Regions from separate parts of the Homo sapiens genome. Here region 2 is linked to region 1. The links come from fine-mapping of genetic effects on gene expression. Tissue or cell type: sun-exposed skin. Region 1 holds a variant in brackets; the other region holds the start of a gene. All regions are shown on one strand. Distances are from middle to middle.

The links. PIP is the estimated chance that this variant, and not a neighbour inherited with it, causes the effect.
Region 2: it holds the start of LINC00847, and the variant in region 1 is fine-mapped to the expression of LINC00847 in sun-exposed skin (GTEx, PIP 0.96).

Annotation. Positions count from the first base shown.
Region 1 is chr5:180,177,922-180,186,023 of GRCh38, forward strand. The region is part of intron 1 of RASGEF1C (RasGEF domain family member 1C); the gene reads right to left. Among named protein-coding and RNA genes, the nearest start is that of RASGEF1C, 27 kb to the right of the region's middle. The variant G/C (reference allele first, on the strand shown) is at 4,209.
Region 2 is chr5:180,825,916-180,834,017 of GRCh38, forward strand. It overlaps LINC00847 (long intergenic non-protein coding RNA 847), which reads left to right and starts at 5,042. Exons shown (of 3, transcript NR_045679.1): 1 at 5,042-5,314; 2 at 6,758-6,945. HEIH (hepatocellular carcinoma up-regulated EZH2-associated long non-coding RNA) reads right to left here and starts at 5,703. Exons shown (of 1, transcript NR_045680.1): 1 at 4,039-5,703. It also overlaps a transcript of ZFP62 not described here. RefSeq lists silencers at 5,268-5,317, 5,678-5,807, 6,248-6,417.

The DNA of each region.
Region 1 (8,102 bases):
AGACCATGTCCCACATCCAGCCATGCCTGAAGCCCACCTTGGGCTTTTTTTTTTTTTCTTTTTGAGGTGGAGTCTCGCTCTGTTGCCCAGGCTGGAGTGCAGTGGCATGATCTCGGCTCACCGCAACTTTCGCCTCCCAGGTTCAAGTGATTCTCCTGCCTCAGCCTCCTGAGTAGCTGGGACTACAGGCGTGCACCACCAAGCCTGGCTAATTTTTTTTTTTTTTTTGTATTTTTAGTAGAGACAGGGTTTCACTGTGTTAGCCAGGATGGTCTCTATCTGGCCTCGTGATCTGCTTGCCTCAGCCTCCCAAAGTGCTGGGATTACACGTGTGAGCCACTGCACCCGGCTGGCTTTTTTTTTTTTTTTTTTTTTTTGAGACGAGTCTCACTCTGCCACCTAGGCTGGAGTACAGTGGCGTGATCTCAGCTCACTGCAGCCTTTGCCTCCTGGATTCAAGCAATTCTCCTGCCTCAGTCTCCCAAGTAACTGGGACTACAGGCATGTACTACCACTCCAGGCTAATTGTTGTATTTTTAGTAGAGACGGGGTTTCACCATGTTGGCCAGGCTGGTCTCGAACTCCTGACTTCAAGTGATCTGCCCGCCTCAGCCCCCCAAAGTGCTGGGATTACAGGTGTGAGCCACCGTGACTGGCTATCCCAGGGCTTTTTATTTACAGAAGCAAATGCGTTTTCTGAGTCCTTAAGTCTGAGGTGGGTTTCTCCACTTGAAATAGAAAGAACCTAACACCCCAGCTCTGAAGTGCACCATCACCAGCTGCTGCTGGCTTTCATCACCGGCTTTCCACGCAGCAGACCACGGCGCAGATGTGGGCGGGGTCCTTATTGGCCATGAGACCCCGGGGCGTCACTTTCCTCAGACAGCCTTATATGTAAAATGGGCCTAATGCACCCCCGGCTGATATGTGGAGGGGACAGCTGGTCTAAAATTCAACAGCAGAAGGGACTGGAGAATGTTCTTGGGGGGGGAGGGGCGCAGGTGCCAAGGAGCGGAGTGGGGAGGAAGCCAAGGACAGCAAGGTCTGAGGGCTGAAGCAGGATGAGGGAGGCCCCCGGCCATGGGGCCTGGGGCCGGGAGGAGGCGGGTTTATGACCATGGGATAGTCCTGCAGCGTCTCTGCCTGCTGAGTGAAGAACGGGCTGGGGCTGGAGGGAGAGTCGTGGGTCTGGATCGAGCTGGAATCAGGGGCATGCAGCCCAGTGCCTGCATTCTGCGCAGATTGGGAGGGTGGCGTGCATGGGCCGTGTTGATGTTTGGATGCAGGAGGGGGACTGCTGACATAAAGGGAGCACTCAGCCCCCGGGGTTTGTGCGTTACCCACCTGGGTGACTTGTCTGAGATGAGGGAGGCTGCAGGGAGAAGGGAGTAGAGGGTGGTGGGAGGTAAGAGCAGCAGGAAGCCCAGGGACAGGAGGGGGCTTGGAAGCCCAGAGGGCAGCATTTCAGGAGAGAAGGGCCGATGGATGGGCCAGTGGTGCACAGGGAGTGGAGCAGCCCAGGGAACCCATGGTGTGCTGAGCAGACCAACCCAGGACAGGGGCGTGAAGGCAGAAGCCAGCCTGCACCAGCCTGCACCGACACCTTTGACCTCAGACCCAGCAATTACCCTAAGGAGCTAACCCAGCAAGAAAGCAGTGATCAATACAGCAGCTGCCAGGGTGAGGAGGCTCCCACGCTGCCGAGAGGCTGGGAAGGAGACGCGTCCTGCCACTGGGCGTCAGGTATGCAAACTGTGGTCTCTCCATTCAAGGAATACTGAAAGGAACCCTGAGGAAGAAGCTCTGAGCTACTGAAGGAGAGAAGCCAAACAATGCACACTATGCTTCGGATGAATGGATCTTTGCAAAACAAAAACGTACATCTCCGTGTACCCAGAGATAAGTCGTGTACATTAAATGATAGCAGACTCATGATGTGGAACTGGGGGAGTAAGAGGTGTCAGTTTCCTCCTTTACCCTCTCTACATTCCTGGCTTTGCGTCCGTCAACGAGTTTTTATTACTTTTACCAACAGAAAGAAAAGCACAAAGGAAAGGAAGGACCGGGCGAGTGGGCAGAGAGAAGGTGGAGTGCAGTGATGGAGCTGCCAGCTAGGCGGGGGCAGGCCAGGGCCACCCCAAGCCCTGGGAGGCGGTGGCCTGCTCACACTGCCTGTAGCACATCCACCAGCAGCTCTGGGGGGAAAGCCAGCAGCCAATTACACAAAAAGGCAGCGGGCACAGCTGCCTCTCTCTCCAGCCACTCTCAGTCTGTGGAGGTAATAACAAGTAGAAGCATTTAGGGCATGCTTGAGTTCGACAAAGAGCAGGTCTGATTGACTCCAAGTCAGCTGTGCACATGCAGGCTGGTGGAAAGGGTGGCCTGGCCGCTGCTGTCAGATTTATGACAGCCACAAAGCTGCCTCTTTCCTAAAGCCAGTGCCACCACTGCTGCTGTTTGAGACGAGCTCCACGACCCAAAGCAGTCAGAAGACAAACTGGCCGGTGCACCATGCTTTGGTTTGCAGTCAGACTGACATGTGCACAGTACTTAACAATTTGCAGTCTGACATGTGTGTACCTCACTTCACAGTTTGCAGAGTCCTTTCAGAGATGTCATTGCTCCTGAGTCCCAGGTCCCTGCCCAGAGGTGCCAGGAGCAAAGCCGCTGCCCCAGACTGGCCATCGGTGGGAGCACCCCAGGACCTGGCTCCTGCCCAAGGAACGGCCAAACCCATTGCCACAAGCAGGGGCCCTGGTGCCTCCAGCTTCTCTTTTCAGCCAGCATGGCTGTGGTTGTGTTGTTTACCTTTTTACTGGAGTATAACCTACATCCTGGAAAGCACACAAGCTTGAAGCGTGCAGCTAGATGAGATCTCCGAAGTGAACCAGGCCACCAGCACCCAGATTGAGAAGCAGAACATTTCCAGACCCTGAAAAGTCCACCTGTGCCCCTCTTCACCCACTAACCCTTTAATTTCAATTGCAAAGAAACACCAAGAGGGATCGCCGCATACAGCACTATCAATCAATGTTCACACAAAACTAGAAATGGGAGGGATCACCACGCAGGGCACTATCAATCACTGTTCACACGAAACTCGAAATGCGTCACGCCCAGGTGGGTACCTGTCCTAAATGCAGGAGCAAGAGGACGAACAGGAACCCCACGTGGCTGCGGACTACTAGCCTGGGGCTCTGCCCCTCCCATCACTGGCAGTCAGGCAGTGCCTCCCCAGGATGTGCCAGTCCTGCTGGGCTGCAATCCCACCGGGATCAGGGACAAAGGAAATGGCAGCTACCAGGTAAACATAAAAGACTTAAAAAATGCCTTTAAAACATACTTGAGTGTTTAAAGCAAAAATAATACTGTAGTGTGGGGTTTATAAATATGTGGAAAAGAGATGTATGACAACACTAGCATTGTCGTCGGTTGGACTGAGTCCCTCCTAAACAGATGACTGAAGTCCTCACCTCCAATATCTCCAAAACGAGGCCTTATTTGGAAATAGGGTCACTGCAAATGTAATGAGTGAAGAGGAGGCCACACTGGAGTGGAGTGGAGTGGGGTGGGGTGGACTCCTAATCCAACATGACTAATGACCTTAGAAGACGTGGGCACACAGGAAGAGCACCATGTGACACTGAGGGCAGAGACTGGAGTGATGCGGCTTCAAGCCAAGGAATGCAGAAGATTTCTAACAAGCCGCCAGAAGCTGGGAACAGGCAGGGAAGGGTTCTATTGGGTTCAGAGGGAATGTGTCCCATGAGCCCCTGATCCAGAACTCCAAATGAGAGAACACATTTCCGTTGTTTTAAGCCATCCCAGTCTGTGACACTTTGTTAAGGCAGCCCTAGGAAAGTGATACAAACACAAGGCTGAGTGGAGCATGAACGCCACTGGCAGGATGTCTTCATGCTATATATGCAGCAGCACACTATTGAGACCACAGTTTCTTCGGTTGGTTTGTGGTCTCGCTGACTTCAAGAATGAAGCCATGGGCCGGGCGCAGTGGCTCACGCCTGTAATCCTAGCACTTTGGGAGGCCGAGACGGGCGGATCACGAGGTCAGGAGATCGAGACCATCCTGGCTAACACGGTGAAACCCCGTCTCTACTAAAAATACAAAAAAAATTAGCCGGGCATGGTGGCGGGCGCCTGTAGTCCCAGCTACACGGGAGGCTGAGGCAGGAGAATGGCGGGAACCC[G/C]GGAGGTGGAGCTTGCAGTGAGTCGAGATCGCGCCACTGAACTCCAGCCTGGGCAACAGAGCAAGACTCCGTCTCAAAAAAAAAAAAAAAAAAAAAAAAAAAGAATGAAGCCATGGACCTTCACAGTGAGTGTTACACAGCTCTTAAAGGTGGTGTGTCTGGAGTTTCTTCCTTCCGGTGGGTTTGTGGTCTCGCTGACTTCAAGAATGAAGCCGCGGACCTTCACGGTGAGTGTTACAGCTCTTAAAGGTGGCGCGGACCCAAACAGTGAGCAGCCGCAAGATTTATTGTGAAGACCAAAAGAACTCAGCTTCCACAGCTGGAAGAGAACCCCAGCAGGTTGCCGCTGTTGGCTGGGATGGCCAGCTTTTATTCCCTTATTTGTCCCTGCCCATGTCCTGCTGATTGGTCCATTTTACAGAGTGCTGATTGGTCCATTTTATAGTGTTGATTGGTGCATTTTTACAGAGTGCTGATTGGTGCTTTTACAATCCCTTAGCTAGACACAGAGCACTGATTGGTGCATTTTTACAGAGTGCTGATTGGTGCTTTTACAATCCTTTAGCTAGACACAGAGCACTGATTGATGCGTTTTTACAGAGTGCTGATTGGTGCTTTTACAATCCTTTAGCTAGACACAGAAAAGTTCTCCAAGTCCCCACTGGACCCAGGAAGTCCAGCTGGCTTCACCTCTCACTATCACCTGGAGGGAGACTGGGATCAAGCTGTGGTGGTCAGAAGAGTTCTAAGATGGCCCTGGATTCCTACTCCCTGGTGTACACACCCCATACAATCCCCTCTCCTCTTAGGTATAGGCAGGACTGTGAATATGATGGATGTCACTCCTGTGATTAGGTGATGTTATCTGGCAAAGATGAAGGGAGTTTTGCAAGTTTAAGTAAAGCCTGTAATCAGTTGACTTTGAGATCATCAAAAGGGAAATTATGCTGCATGAGTGTAACCTAAACAGATAAGCTTTTTTAAAAAAAGGTCAGATACTTGCATCAGAGACTCTCCTGATGGTCTTGAAGAAGCAAGCCACCATGCAGTCTACAGTGGCAAGGAAATAAATTCTGCCACCAGCCACATGAGCTTGGAAGAAGACACTAAAACACAGATGAGACCCAAGCCCCACACTTGTGAGACCCTGAACCCCTGACTCATGAAAATTCTAAAATAATAAATTTGTGTTTTACATTACCAAGATCGGTTTAATGTTTTGGGTAGCAACAGAAAAGTAATGCAATGAATGATACCTAAATTAAGCACTAAAATAACACAGCAAAGGGATATAGCTTAAAAAATCAACAAAGGACATAAGCTAGAATCATAAAAAAAAACCCAATTAATTCAAAAGAAGTCAGAAAAAAAAAAAGATACAAGGAAAAACATATGAAACAATTAAAAAATAAAGGCTAGGCATGGTGGCTTACACCTGTAATCCCAGCACTTTGGAAGGCTGAGGCAGGTGGATCACCTGAGGTCGGGAGTACAAGACCAGCCTGACCAACATGGAGAAATTCCGTCTCTACTAAAAATACAAAATTAGCCGGGTGTGGTGATGCATGCCTGTAATTCAACTACTTGGGAGGCTAAGGCAGGAGAATCGCTTGAACCAGGAGGCAGAGGTTGCAGTGAGCCAAGATGGCACCACTGCACTCCAGCCTGGGAAACAAGAGCAAAACTCCATCTCAATAAATAAATAAATAAATAAATAAATAGATTTCAGAATAGATTTCAGATCAAATAAATAAACAGCCGGCCGGGTGTGATGGCTCATGCCTATAATCCCAGCACTTTGGGAGCCCGAGGCTGGCAGATCTCTTGAGGTCAGGGGTTTGAGACCAGCCTGGTCAACATAGTAAAACTCCATCTTTACTAAAAATACAAAAATTAGCCGGGTGTGGTGACGCATGCCCAGCTACTCAGGAGGCTGAGGCACAAGAATCACTTGAACCTGGGAGATGAAGGTTGCAGTGAGCAGAGATTGCACCACTGCACTCCAGCCTGGGCAACAGAGCGAGACTCCATCTTGAAATAAATAAATAAAAATAAATAAATAAATAAATAAATAAATAGAAGGTGGTTAATTTAAATCCAACAATATCTTAATCACATTAAATGTAAATGTTCTAAACAATCCAATTAAAAGGCAGAGATTTGGGCTGGATGCAGTGGCTCATGCCTGTAATCCCAGCACTTTGGGAGGCCGAGGCGGGTGGATCACCTGAGGTCAGGAGTTTGAGACCAGCCTGACCAACATGGTGAAATCTTGTCTCTACTAAAAAAATACAAATATAAGCCAGGCATGGTGGTGTGCACCTATAATCCCAGCTACTCGGGAGGCTGAGGCAGGAGAATCGCTTGAACCCGGGAGGTGGAGGTTGCAGTGAGACGGGATCGTGCCACTGCACTCCAGCCTGAGTGACAGAGCAAGACTCCATCTCAAAAAATTAAATAAATAAATAAAATAACATAAAAGGCAGAGATTTTCAGATTGGATATGAAAGCAAGAACCACATAAATGCTGTCTACAAGAACCCAAGTTTAAATACAGAGACATAAATAGATTAAAAGTGAAAGTATGTAAAAAGGAAAGAGAGCTGGTATGTCTATAATTATTTTATCTATATGATTATCGGAATAGATTTCAGATCAAATAATAGGATAGTAAAGAAGGCCATTCCATAATGACAAAGGGTCATCCATAAAGATGATATAACCATCTTAAGCATGTGTTCACCTAATAACAGAGCTTCAGAATACATGAAGCAAGAACTGATAGAACTGCGAGAATAAACAAACCACAACCTTAGTTGAGATTTTTGTCATCTGTTTCTCAATAATGGATAAAACCAGCAGATAGAAAATCATGAAGGAGGGCCAGGGGCGGTGGCTCACACCTGTAATCCCAGCACTTTGGGAGGCCGAGGTGGGCGGATCACAAGGTCAGGAGATTGAGACCATCCTGGCTAACACGGTGAAACCCCATCTCTACTAAAAATACAAAAAATTAGCCGGGTGTAGTGGCGGGCACCTGTAGTCCCAGCTACTTGGGAGGCTGCGGCAGGAGAATGGTGTGAACCCGGGAGGCAGAGCTTGCAGTGAGCGAGATCGCGCCACTGCACTCCAGCCTGAGTGACAGAGCGAGACTCTGTCTAAAAAAAAAAAGAGGCCAGTTACAGTGGCTCACGCCTGTAATCCCAGCACTTTGGGAGGCTGAGGTGGGCAGATCACCTGAGGTCAGGAGTTTCAGACCATCCTGGCCAACATGGTGAAATCCCATCTCTACTAAAAATACAAAAATTAGCCGGGCATGGTGGTGTGTGCCTGTAATCCCAGCTACTCAGGAGGCTGAGGTAGGAGAATCACCTTTACCCGGGAGGTGGAGGTTGCAATGAGCCAAGATTGTGCCATTGCACTCCAGCATGGGTGACAAGAGTGAAACTCCATCTTAAATAAATAAATTTAAAAATGAATAAATAAATAAATAAATAAATAAAAAGGATAATAAGAAAATACCATGGACAAGTTTATGCCAATCAGTTGAAAATTTAGATGACATGCAAAAATTATTCGAATGATACAAACTACCAAATCTCACAAAAAATAGATAACCTGAATGACTATATCTATCAAAGAAATTTCAACTGGAGTTAAAAACCTTCTCATAAGGAACAAGACAAAGCCAAGCGTGGTGGTTCATACCTGTAAACACAGCACTTTGGGAGGCTAAGGCAGGCACATAACTTGAGTCCAGCAGCTCAAGACCAGCCTGGGCAACATGGCATGACCCTGTCTCTCCAAAAAATGCAAAAATTAGCCAGGCATGGTGGTGCACACCTGTGGTGCCAGCTACTTGGGAAGCTAGATGGGCAGGCTGATTGAGCCTGG
Region 2 (8,102 bases), 650 kb after region 1:
TGCCCCTGTAAAGACTGGGCCCTGCCTTTCCCCTGCCCATCTGCTGGGGACATGGTAGGACTGCAGCAGTTGCCTGGCCCAGAGATAGACGGCACAGCTATCCTGCTGGTCCTACCTCTAGACCGCCACATGTACCTCACTTACACTGCTTGGGTTTTGCATCTTAAAACCCCAATTAGCACACCATTCATTCATTCATTCCCCCATCAACAAGTATGTACTGAGTGTCTTTTTGCCAGGCATTGCACTAGGTTTTGGAGAGATGACAGTGAACAAAAACAAACTTGGCTGTTCTGTATCTTGGCTGTGGCAGTGGTTACACAAGCCTACACATGTGATAAAACTGCATAGAACTAAATACACACACACAGAGGAATGCCAGTCAAACTGGGAATTAAAGAATCAAAAAGTCACTGGTGACTCAACATGGCAGCAGTCCAGCTCAACCATACAGATGACAGCAGTGTGCTGAAGTATGACAAAGGAATGATTTAAAAGGAATTGAGGCAGAGCTGCCAGGCAGGCATGCTCACCTTGGACTTTGAAGCAAGAGAGACATAAATAAAGGTCTTTGTTCTGTAAGTAGAGTGTTCATATAATTTATCATCCAAACTGAGACACCTGTGAAAATAATTACACTGGAACAACTTGTGTGACTGATCAGCTGGTCACTCCATCTTTAAGTCATTGTCTTGTTGAGTCTGTTATCAGAGCCCATGGAGTGCCATGCATGGACAGCTTATTTAGGCACAACAGAGAAAAATTAAAGGGAAGGAGGAGCAAGGAAGAGTGGAAAGGATAAAGAAATGGTGAGCATTGGCAGGAAACAATGCAAGGAGAAAAGGGAACAGGAATCGGATTTTCTACTAATTTGCTGTGTGTTCCTGTGTCAGTTTATAAATTAGTGTCTATATTTACAACCGATTGGAAGAACGAACTTTTTAGATCCTCTCATCCAACAAAGCTGCAGATTTCTTTATTGAGATGGAGTTGAGAAAGCTTTAAAACAGGCCAAAGCAACATGAGGACATGTGTCATGAGAAGAGAAATGGTCTTCCATAAATTGAGTGCTGGGGAAGGCTTGGTGTAGGTAATGTAGAGGTTCTCAAACTGTGGAGAAGCTCAAAATGTGTTCCTTTGAGCCTTGGTCTTCTAGTTAGGCCACTGTCTAAGCCACTATACAAAAAGACACCAAACACACTGGCTTCAACAAGACAAGCCTCTGTTTCTCTTTCGGGTGACAGGAGAAGCAGAGGACTAAGCTTTCTTTTCCAAGTCATCACCTGAAAGTTGCCCCTTCACTTCTGCTCACATTGCATTGGCCAGAGACTTGAAAGGAAGCTGGGCACGTGCTGTGGGGAAAAGAAAGAGAGATCAGATTGTTACTGTGTCTGTATAGAAAGAAGTAGACGTAGGAGACTCCATTCTGTTCTGTACTAAGAAAAATTCTGCCTTGAGATTCTGTTAATCTGTGACCTTACCCCCAACCCTGTGCTCCCTGAAACGTGTGCTGTGTCAACTCAGGGTTAAATGGATTAAGGGCTGTGCAGGGTGTGCTTTGTTAAACAGATGCTTGAAGGCAGCATGCTCCTTAAGAGTCATCACCACTCCCTAATCTCAAGTACCCAGGGACACAAACACTGCGGAAGGCCGCAGGGACCTCTGCTGAGGAAAGCCAGGTATTGTCCAAGGTTTCTCCCCATGTGATAGTCTGCAATATGGCCTCATGGGAAGGGAAAGACCTGACCGTCCCCCAGCCCGACACCCGTAAAGGGTCTGTGCTGAGGAGGATTAGTATAAGAGGAAGGCATGCCTCTTGCAGTTGAGACAAGAGGAAGGCATCTGTCTCCTGCCCGTCCCTGGGCAATGGAATGTCTCGGTATAAAACCCAATTTACGTTCCATCTACTGAGATAGGGAAAAACCGCCTTAGGGCTGGAGGTGGGACATGCGGGCAGCAATACTGCTTTGTAAAGCATTGAGATGTTTATGTGTATGCATATCTAAAAGCACAGCACTTGATTCTTTACCTTGTCTATGATGCAAAGACCTTTGTTCACGTGTTTGTCTGCTGACTCTCTCCCCGCTATTGTCTTGTGACCCTGACACATCCCCCTCTCGGAGAAACACCCACAAATGATCAATAAATACTAAGGGAACTCAGAGGCTGGCGGGATCCTCCATATGCTGAACGCTGGTTCCCCGGGCCCCCTTATTTCTTTCTCTATACTTTGTCTCTGTGTCTTTTTCTTTTCCAAGTCTCTCGTTCCACCTAACGAGAAACACCCACAGGTGTGGAGGGGCAACCCACCCCTTCAACGTGCCCTGCCAAACCTCTGGTGGTAAGGCTTCGATTACTAAATGGAAGAAAGGGACACAGGGTGTTTTGGAGTTGACACCTAGCTCTTTGGAGGTGACTCAGATCACTCAGGAGAGTCCGTAAGGCCCGGTGGGCAACACCCCAATCCTCCAGTCTCTACCCAAGAAGCTCCACCTTCATCTATTTGAGGGTTCTATGTTGCGGGAAGTCAGGGACCCCGAATGGAAGGACCAGCTGGAGCTGTGGCAGAAGAACATAAATTGTGAAGATTTTATTTTAATATGGACATTTATCAGTTCCCAAATAATGCTTTTATAATTTCTTATGCCTGTCTTTACTTTAATCTCTTAATCCTGTTATCTTCATAAGCTGAGCATGTATGTCACCTCAGGATCACTATGATAATTGTGTTAACTGTACAAATTGATTATAAAACGTGTGTTTGAACAATATGAAATCAGTGCACCTTGAAAAAGAACAGAATAACAGCAATTTTTAGGGAACAAGGGAAGACAACCATAAGGTCTGACTGCCTGCGGGGTCAGGCAAAAAGAGCCATATTTTTCTTCTTGCAGAGAGCCTATAAATGGACGTGCAAGTAGGGAAGATATTGCTGAATTCTTTTCCTAGCAAGGAATATTAATAATTAAGACCCTGGGAAAGGAATGCATTCCTGGGGGTAGGTCTATAAATGGCTGCTCTGGGAGTGTCTGTCCTATGCGGTAGCGATAAGGACTGAGATACGTCCTGGTCTCCTGCAGTACCCTCAGCCTTATTAGGATTGGGAAACTCCATCCTGGTAAATTTTTGGTCAGACCGGTTCTCTGCTCTTAGACCCTGTTTTCTGTTAAGGTGTTTATCAAGACACTACGTGCACCACTGAACATAGACCCTTATCAGGAGTTCTGCCTTTTGCCCCTTGTCCTGTTTCCTCAGAAGCATGTGATCTTTGTTCTGCCTTTTGCCCTTTGTCCTGTTTCCTCAGAGGCATGTGATCTTTGTTCTGCCTTTTGCCCTTTGTCCTGTTTCCTCAGAGGCATGTGATCTTTGTTCTGCCTTTTGCCCTTTGTCCTGTTTCCTCAGAAGCATGTGATCTTTGTTCTGCCTTTTGCCCTTTGAAGCATATGATCTTTGTTCCTACTCCCTGTTCGTACACTCCCTCCCCTTTTGAAATCCTTAATAAAAACCTGCTGGTTTTACGGCTCAGGTGAGCATCACGGTCCTACCAATATGTGATGTCACCCCCGGTGGCCCAGCTGTAAAATTCCGCTCTTTGTACTCTTTATTTCTCAGCCGGCCAACATTTATGGAAAATAGAAAGAACCTATGTTGAAATATTGGGGGTGGGTTCCCCCGATATCTGGCCCCTATCGGGTTCCCCCGATAGTTCTATCTAAATTTTTATCTGAAAAATAAGTTTCTCTGCTTTAAAAAAGAAACTTTGAAGACCATTTTACAGAAGAATTGGTTTGCCAAGGTGGAAAGAGAAGCTCATCAGTGACGTGACTTAGCCAAAAGCACTGGTTATACCTCTATACCTCGGAGCCGACACTGAAAGCCCCGGCCATAGTCTTTCTGCCCCAAGGAAAGCCTGGGGTGGGGGTGGGTGATATTGTCAAGAGCCAGGCCCCAGCTCCTCATACACACAGCTCATTTGCTCTCCCTCCCAACCCCCACCTTCATACTTCTTCCACACGCATACCAAAGAAAATAAGAATCTCAAGGTTGGAAAATCCCACTTTACTTCAAGTGAAGTCACTGGGTTGTCCCCATGAAATATCTCCACAATGGGTGTGCTAGACCTTTACTCTCTGTGGCACCACCAAGACCCCCTCACCCTGCCAGAGCCCTCTGAAGTGTACTCAGAATGGAGGGGCTGGAAGTGGGGCCAGTGGTCCTGGTAGTCAGCCTCCCCTTCTGACACAAGAATTATCGTGGAACAGCTTGTGTGACCGATCAACTGGTCTCTCCATCTTTAAGCCATTGTCTTGTTGACTCTGTTACTGCAGAGTTTGGGGAGGTCTCATGGCTTCTCGCATCCTATTTCCTGAGCTTCCCTGAAGCCAACTTCTGGCCACTGGTATGTGATGCGAGCACAGTGCCTCCTCCTGCTCCTCCAGGAAGCTTCTGCTGATTGAACGCAGGCCAGATGGCGAGATCCGGAGCAACCTTCTTAGATCAAGGGAAGAAAGGGGCACAAGAGGGGAGTAGGTAACAAGATAAAAGGAGCTCCCTCCCTGATGACTACAGAGCCATCGTGGCAGCCCTGGGCCTCCATTTCAGACGTTCATCTTGCCTAAGCCACCACCATCAGGGTCTCAGTCAGTCATCATTCTCATTTACTCGGGTGGCTGGGTGAGGGCGGAATACTACCTTCCAGCTGTCTGAGATTAAGCCTAAGCCACCACCATCAGGGTCTCAGTCAGTCATCATTCTCATTTACTCGGGTGGCTGGGCGAGGGCGGAATACTACCTTCCAGCTGTCTGAGATTAAGCAGAACAGCAGCTAAAGCAGTAACAGCAGGTCTCCTTCAGCAGCTTGCCACAGGGAAGAGGGTCCCGCGTGAACCGAACTCAACTTCCACCTGCGCAGAGGTAGCTACCATTTGCGTAGAGGTAGCTGGGTCTTTAAGGTTAGAGGGAAGGCGCAGGGAGGGAGAGACGGCGGGTGGGGGTTGAACAAAGTGGAGATTCACAAAAGCAGACTAGGGCGGGCGACGTGATCAGATGACCTGTGCGGGCGGCAGCCTCCTGCCCTCCTCCCCTTCGTGCGCCGGCTGGAGCGAAGAGTTCTTTTGACAGCCGTGAGCTTCCCCGCCAGGAACTTACTGGGGCTGCATCACCCTAGAAACGTGGCTTTGGGCTGTGGAAACGCTGCCTCTGTGGAAGTCTCTCCTCGCGGGGGTGGACGGGTCGCTGCGCGCCCAGCGTTCTTCTGCGGTTCTCACAGCCCGCCGCCGCCGCCGCCTCGGGGACCTTTGCGGGGAGGCCTCAGGTCAGCGCCGCCCTTGCGATGGCGGGAGAGCAGAGCGGCCCCAGGGCCTCTGAGCTCCGGCCCCGGCACGTCCCGCCCTCTCCTCCGCTTGCGGGAGCCGGGGCGCCTCGGAGGGAAACCTTCCGGACACAGGCCGGGAGAAGAGGGGCCGTGGCGCCATCGCGCAGCTTCCTGGTTTCGGCCATGTTTTTTTTTTTTTGAGACGGAGTTTCGCTCTTTTTGCCCAGGCTGGAGGGCAATGGCGCCGTCTCGGCTCCCTGCAGCCGCCGCCTCCCGGGTTGAAGGGACTCTCCGGCCTCAGGCCGCGGTGTTCTTGTAAATTAGAACCGGCCTATGCGCCAAGCGCGGGTCTCGCGGCTGCGGAGAGAGGCCCAGCAGGGGGCGGGGACGCCGGGAGGCGGGGCCTGGCCGAGCTGCGCACACCCGGGTGGTTCTGGCTACGGGTACCCGGACCTGCCCAACGACCGTTCTCCATTCCCGACCTCCGCACCCTACCCGGTCCGCAGGGCACCTTCCTCCTCTCTCTCAGGCACGTCCTCGACCTCAGTTGCCACGTGCACATGCTGGTGCCTTCCAGGTCGGTCTTTCTCCACCAGACTCCACCTGGAACTTTCTTCCTTTTCGTCCTGTGCTGGCCTAACCCCTGCTCGGCCTCGGCCCTCAGCTGCCGGCTCTAACAAAGCCTCTGTCTTTCCCAGACCCCTGTGACCAGGTCAGGCTCTGCTCCCTGCGTTCCTCTCTCCTTGCTTCCCTCCTCCTCCCCTCCCCAGAATCGCTTGAACCTGGGAGGCAGACGTTGCAGTGAGCTGAGATCGCACCATTGCACTCCAGCCTGGGTGACAAGAGCGAGACTCCATCTCAAAACAAAAAACAAAAAACACAACTCTTGCTGGCTCCTTGATTTTAGCCCAGTGAGATTCACTTCTAATTTCTTTTTTTCTTTGAGACAGTCTGTTCTGTCACCCAGGCTGGAGTGCAGTGGCGTAATCATGGCTCACTGCAGCCTCAACCTTCCTGGACTCAAGTGAACCTTCCACCTCAGCCTCCCAGGTAGCCGGGACTACAGGGGTGCACCAGCATGCCTGGCTAATTTTTGCATTTTTTGTAGAGATGGGGTTTCACTATGTTGCCCAGGCTGGTCTGAAACTCCTGTGCCCCAGCAGTCCTCCTGCCTTGGTCTCCCAAAGTTCTGAGATTACAGGCATGAGCCACTGCGCCTGGGCTTCCATTTCTGATTTCCAAAACTCTAGGATAATAAATTTACATTGTTTTAAGCCACCAAATTGTAGTAATCTGTTACAGCAGCAATAAGAAATGAATACAGCCATGCTTGATAATTCCTTTATCAAAAGCTACCTATTGGTGTTAGGAAGTATTGTTTTAAATTCTAAGACAGTGTTTTCACTTTCTATCTTGTGCACTGACTACCTCATGACCCCTTAGGTACCAGTCAGGACTGGTAGACTTTAATGTGGAGAACTTCTGAAACAGCAGTTCTCAAAATGTTACCTCCAGACACACAGAATCTGCATCACCCAGGAACTTGTAACCATGCAAATTCTCAGCCACCCAGACTTCCTGCATCAGAAACTCTGGGGCCCAGCAGCCTGTGTTTTAACAAAGCCCTTCAGGTGATTCTGACACTTGCTCAAGTTTGAGAACCGCTGTTCTAGGAGCTGGTCCTGCAGGGAAAGGGTGGCCTCTCAGTTCAGGTTCCAGTGTGGCTGGGGGTGGGGGTCAAGGTGAGGGTTTGGTTGTTGTGTCTGACAGTCAGCCAGGCTTGAGCACACGGACTGTTTACAAGGCTGCACTTTCCATGTTCTGGTCAGCAGTCTCCTGGTTCATTCCGTTACGAATGGACTGTCACCCCAAAATTAATGTTGAAATCTATTTCTCTATTTGGAGGTGGGGCCTTTGGGAGGTAATTAGGTCATGAGAGTGGAGCCCTCATGAATGGAATGACTGCCTAAGAGAACAGAGATGGCTCACACCTGTAATCCCAGCACTTTGGGAGGCTGAGGTGGGCGGATCACGAGGTCAAGAGATCGAGACCATCCTGGCTAACACGGTGAAACCCCATCTCCACTAAAATACAAAAAATTAACCAGGTGTGGCAGCGGGTGCCTGTAGTCCCAGCTACTCAGGAGGCTGAGGCAGGAGAATGGTGTAAACCTGGGAGGCAGAGCTTTCAGTGAGCTGAGACTGCGCCACTGCACTCCAGCCTGGGCGATACGGTGAAACTCTGTCTCAAAAAAAAAAAAAAAAAAAGAGAACAGAGAGCTAGCTTGCTGATTTTCTGCCATATGAGGATACAGTAAGAGGGCAGCCATCTGCAACTTGTAAGATGACCCTCACCATAACGTGACCATGCTGGCACCACGATCTCAGACTTCTAACCCCCAGAACTGAGAAATAAATTTCTCCACCACTCTATGACACGGTATTTTTTTTTTTTTTTTGAGATGGAGTCTCGCTCTATTGCCCAGGCTGGAGCGCAGTGGCACGATCTCGGCTCACTGCAACCTCTGCCTCCCGGGTTCAAGCGATTCTCCTGCCTCAGCCTCCTGAGTAGCTGGGATTACAGGTATGCGCCACCACACCTGGCTAAGTTTTGTATTTTTAATAGAGATGGGGTTTCACCGTGTTAGCCAGGATGGTCTCGATCTCCTGACCTCATGATCCGCCCGCCTCGGCCTCCCAAAGTGCTGGGATTACAGGCGTGAGCCACTGCGCCCAGCTGGCATGGTATTTGTTATAGCAACCCAAGCTAAGACACTCCATGTTATGG